Regions from separate parts of the Homo sapiens genome. Here region 1 is linked to region 2. Evidence: fine-mapped expression QTL. A gene starts in region 2. The other region holds a variant in brackets. All regions are shown on one strand. Distances are between the middles of the regions. Region 1 holds the start of CCDC148-AS1 (CCDC148 antisense RNA 1). Region 2 holds the start of UPP2 (uridine phosphorylase 2).

What was found.
Region 1: its variant is fine-mapped to the expression of UPP2 in prefrontal cortex (BrainSeq, PIP 0.95).

What each region holds. Positions count from the first base shown.
Region 1 is chr2:158,163,994-158,166,925 of GRCh38, reverse strand. It overlaps CCDC148-AS1 (CCDC148 antisense RNA 1), which reads right to left and starts at 276. Exons shown (of 5, transcript NR_038850.1): 1 at 203-276. The variant C/T (reference allele first, on the strand shown) is at 1,471.
Region 2 is chr2:158,100,341-158,103,272 of GRCh38, reverse strand. It overlaps UPP2 (uridine phosphorylase 2), which reads right to left and starts at 1,397. Exons shown (of 7, transcript NM_173355.4): 1 at 1,148-1,397. The coding sequence starts at 1,209.

The sequences.
Region 1 (2,932 bases), 64 kb before region 2:
TTAAGGTCAGGTGATTAGCGATCAGAATACCCTTTGCCATGTAACATAACATTCACAGATTATGGAGATTAGGAAATTGACATCTTTGGGAGACATTTTCTGCCTACCACGGGGTATATTATAAATTTGTAGTCAATTGCTAGTTGAGGACGTAGTCATCCAAAAGCTCAACTTGGCTGAATGACCAAGAGGACTCACTTACCTGACTGGCAGTTGATGCTGGTTGTTGGCTGGCAGCTCATTTGAGGTTGTCAATGGGACCGACCACCTACACATGACTTCTCAAGATGGCTTGGCTTTTCATAGAATGGTAGCTGGGTTCCAAGATAGAATTTTCCAAGAGCAAACATTCTAAGAGGTATAAAATGCAAGCTGCTAGACCAGTTAAGATCTACTGCTGGAACTGGGATAGGGTCTTTTCCTCCATACTCTTTTCATCAAAGCAGTCATAGAACTCTCCCAGATTAAAAAAGGCTGAGAAAAAGTCCACTTATTGATGGCAAGGTCACATTGGAAAAAAGTATGTGAAATAGGAAATATTTTTGCAGCCACTTTTTGAAATCTGTCATGTTTGTTATCGGGCATAACAAGATGTTTTAAGCTCATTTTGAATATTTCTTGCTCTGACCTGGAACTAACCTTTTCTCTGAGAAGCTTTGGTTCTTTTTATTGGAAAATCGTATTTCAAAACCAAAATTTGGAGACAAAGAATACACATTGCTACTAGGTTGATCTTCTATTCTAGACCTTTTCAATGAGCATGGTTAGAAAATACACACACACACACACACACACACACACACACTCCCATACATATGCATATACATACACATATACATATACATGTACAGACATATATACAAAACAGGCCAAGTGCAGTGGCTCACACCTGTAATCCCAGCACTTTGGGAGGCCAAGGCAGGTGGATCGCTTGAGGCTAGAAGTTCAAGACCAGCATGGCCAACATGGTGAAACCCTGTCTCTACTAAAAATATGAAAATTAATAAGGTGTGGTCGAGAGCGCCTGTAATTCCAGCTATTCAGTAGGCTGAGGCACAAGAATCACTTGAACCCAGGAGGCAGAGGGTGCAGTGAGACGAAATCGTGCCACTGCACTCCAGCCTAGGTGAGAGAACAAGACTCCGCCTCAAAAACAAACAAAAAAAACCCAACAAATCCAGACATACGCTTATATTATCTAAAGATAAAATTTTTTTTTATTTATTCTGTTACTTCAAATTCCATAGGATTTTCACTTGATATCTTGTATGTTACTTTTGTATTTTCTTTTTTCCTTACTGACAATTCTGGTGCCCAATTACACACGGATGTTAGAATATGACATAATTACTCATTTACATTATCCACACAAAAGTCTTAGAATAAAATACCAATATAATAAAAACAAAAATAATAAAATTTGGGGTTATTATGCCTTTTCTATTCTTTTTCTTTTTGTTATCTATATTG[C/T]GAGGGACTGTGTAGACATTATACACACTCTCTTTTATCCATGATTGAATCTTATTCTATTAGTAAATATATATTTACCAATACTGCCAGTTTTTAATGTCAATTTCTCTCTTGTCATTTAGGTTGTCTGAAGCCTGTTTTCCAGAAGATTATTTAGGAATTAGTCATGGAAGCAATATTTTCTGGGTCCTTGAATGTTAATAACAGGTTGATGGTCGTCTTTATAGTTGAAAATAAATTTTTCCTGGGTCTAAGATACTTTATTTACATTTTCTTTTCTTAGCATAAAATGTCAAAGGGCTGGCTATAACATGGTTTTCTTTCCCTAAGAATCACTTGATCTTTTTGCCTAATTAGAGTTTTTTTCACTTCCTTTATAATATAGCAGTTTTACTGGACTTTGTGTTTGTCATTCTGGGTTAATATACTTAGTAAATTATATTCCCTTTCACAATATAAATTCAATTTTATTTCAGGAATTTTGTAAAATTATAATTTTTAGTGTTTGTTATGTTTCCTTTTTTCCCCAGGACTGTTATTATGCTATTATGCTATGTTGGATCTTCTTTGTCTGTAGTCTTTATTTGTCACTTTGTTTTGAATTCTTTTAATCTCTTTCTTCATTTTTAAAAACTTTTTTTATTTGGAAATAACTTTATAGAATAGCCGCAAGAATAAAATTGTTGTAACTTTACCCCAGATTCTCCCATTGTTAACATTTTATTCAACTTTTAAATTGCTTTTGTGTTCTTCTTTAATTTGATTCATTTCTACAGCCTTTGTTGTCTTTCAAGACATTGACTTTTTATCGTGATAAATATACATAATATAAAATTTACTATTTTAACCATTTTTAAGCATACAGTTAAGTGGCATTAAGTATTTTCACATTGTTGTGCAACAATCACCCCTATTCATCTTCAGAACTTTTTCATCATCTCAACCTGAAACTCTGAACCCATTAAACAAAAACTATACACCTCCTCCCCTCAGCCTCTGGTAACCACTATTCTAATTTTTTTCTCTATGAATTTGTCTATTCTAGGTACTTCATATAAGCAGAATCATATAATACTTGTCCTTTTATGTGTGACTTATTTCACTTACCATAATGTTTTCAAGGTTCATCCATGTTGTGGAATGTATCAGAATTTCATTCCTTTTTAAGGCTGAAAACATCCCATTGTGTGTGTGTATATATATATATATAAATTTTTTTTATCTATTCATCTGTCAAAGGACATTTGGATTGTTTTCACCTTTTGGCTATAATAACAGTGCTATAAACATTGATGTACAAATATCTGTTCAAACCACTACTTTTAATTATTTTGAGAATATACTCAAGTGAAATTGGTAAATGATATGGTAATTTTATGTTTAAGATTTTGAGGAACTGCCATGCTATTTTCCACAGTGGCTTTGCCATTTTACATTCCCATTAGCAATGCACAAGAGTTCC
Region 2 (2,932 bases):
CGTCTAATGATTTCTCCGTCAGAAAATTTGGGGGACTGTCTATAGAAGTTTCTTGTTTCATTGGGCTCATCCAGAAGCACTTCTAAGATGATCACTTTATCAGTACCAAAGAAAAAACTTGTTTGGGATTTCATGCCAAATTTCTACCCAATATGAATGTAGTTTTTGGAATATTTGATTTTTCCAAAATATATAATTTTTACTAAATAGGTTTATATGTGTTGTTGAATCTTCAAACTCTTCTTCCTTTTCCTAACACATAGAATAGTCTTTTTAGTAAATCGTGACAAATTACACTACATGATGAGTATTAAATATTGGTAACCAAAAGAAAGTGCTGGCTGAGCAGAAGTCTTTCCATTTGCCATTACCTTCATCTTCATAATTTTTCCTTTTCTTTTTCTCCTGGGCTTCCCTGAAGAAGGGAACATGCAGGAGGCTACCTCTGTTTGGGATGGGCAAATGGAGTGTTTTCTGAAATGCTGACATAATGGAGGCTCTAAGCAAGACATTTCACACAACTCTCAGGAAATCAGAGGGAACCAGCAAAATCTCCTTATGCCTCATGATGATTAATGCTCTGTTGTGTTCTGTTAACCTGGGGCAGGAACTGGAGCTAAATTTGTAGACAGCTTCAGCAATTTTATATCTACCCATGAGATGAATCACATAGACGGTATTTCAGAAGTAAATTCTATGTAAGGTCCATCATGAAGCATATGAAATCACTCCACAATATCCTGCAATACAATTAAACCTCCCTCAGGCACTGGGAGGCCCTTTTAATTATTTCTCATTTGCAGCCCATGGTCTTAGAATTAAGGGCTGAACTCTATAGTGAGTCCCAGGCTGAACCTTGAATTTGTTTACTACTGAAGGTTGGCTAAACTTTTGCATGTTTTTTATAATTTATTTTGCCCCATTTTCTTAGATGAGCCAAACCCTAACCCCCAAAACCAAGGAGTAAAAATGTCATTGAAAATACATTTTCCACTGTTTTTATTGCTTTATGAGCTGCATCCAGTGATATAATCTCTACATTTAAGAAATTTGCTTAACTGTAGAGGCCCATTATCTAATCATTTAATACAAAATCCAAGGAGCAACCATCTGATCAAAACAAATTTACAAAATCAAAATTACTCACCCAACATATGTATTCCTGTCAGATCTCATGGACCTATTGGAGGCAGGTATAACTGAAGCCATTCTCTCTACTATGTGAAAAGTCACCTTAAATTGATGTCAAGAAAGAGAGATATTGTGACTTGTTATTAAATTATAGACCTAGTCATAATAGTTCAGTTCCCAGTCAGAATGATAACCTCTCTTAAAACTTAGGTTTTCCTGTGAAATTGCTAAGAAAATTTTTCCTTTAGCATTTTAAATTTTCCTATCAAATAAAAGATGTCCTCCCTGACATGACTTTTATACCACAGCCCAGCTCTCAGAGCAGCACTTCCTCAAGAAGATAGGCCCCCTTTGAAGGTGTGGCATCCTAGCTCTTTGACCAGGTTGGTTAGCTTGTTAACTATTGGTGAGAACTTTCCCTTACATCTGTCCTTGATCCCAACACAGGTTTGATGTTGCAAACAGGCTTATTTGCTTTGAGACAACTGTATATGGATACGAGTCCTCTTTTGGTTTCTATAACACACCTACCAGGTCTTCTCAAAACTGTGTCCAGTACATACGAGAACTTTCAGTTCTCAAACATTTCAGTTCCCCATCTCCATCCAGCCCCTCGCCAACTTGTTTTCATTCTTTGTCATCACAAGTTAGGGAAGCATCCAAAGTCTGGACCTCAGAATGTCCCTTTATCTGAACTTTGCTCATTCCAGTTCACACAGAAGAACTGATAATTAAACAAAACTTATTTCCCAGGGCCTCTTTCTTTAGTTAAACTGTAGGCCATTGGTAAAATTTATTGAACCAGGGGTTAATCCACATGGAATAATAATACAGCATAGTATTTTCAGAAAACGGAGTCTCTGCCAAGAAAGGCATGAATTCACTACTTTCACTAATGCTTCTCACTTTTCACTTTTGGGACAGAAAAATCTAGAAAACTAGACAACTTCATCCTGATCTTTTTTCTCTTCACTCCCATAGCAATCAGCTGAAGTTCTATGCTGGTGAGAGCTTCAAGAACGTAGTCTCATGGCTTTCAGGCAAATCAGAACCTAAAATGTCTATAAATGCCAAACAGCAGCAAATACAAGACACCTCCTAATATGCTTGGATTTCTTTCCAAGAATGTGCATCACAGTCAAGAATCAAGTGCTCATATCCTAACTGAGTTCTCCATGTTAGAAGATGCTCCTCTTCCTGGTGACAGTCATTCTTGGCAAATTCTTTGAATGCCCCACTGGCCTCCTTTGGTCCATCTTGGTCAGACAGCAAAGTTTACAGAATAGGAAGGAAAAAGAATAGGGGACTCTATATTGGGGAATCCATGTAGCCTAAATCTTGCCACTGTTACCACCAACTAGACGTTTGCAACTGTGCCCAGATAGCAAAAAATTCCTGAGGACACTTATCCTGGAAAAGGTAATGATGACTATGAGGCAAAATAGTCTTTAACATGTGTGTTGCCTTTGTAACTTAGAACAGTAGTTCTTGTTGATAGCTTGTATACATCTGTCTCTTACCTCCTGACTCATCTCAGGCTGGTCTACCTGCTGCTCCTTCCCAGGAACCACTGGCAATTTTGAGACTCAACATACTCACTCACTACTGCTGGCACCAGCACACCTTTATTTGATATTCCATGCCATATCTCTCAATTTTATTTTTAAGGTATAATGAGGAGAACCACCAATTTCAATCTGGCATTTACCTCTGGCTTTGAGAGGTAAAAATGTTAGCTAATTAGATAAGTGTTCAGTAATTAATTACCACAGTGAATTAACTAGGTTGATTAACATGTCTG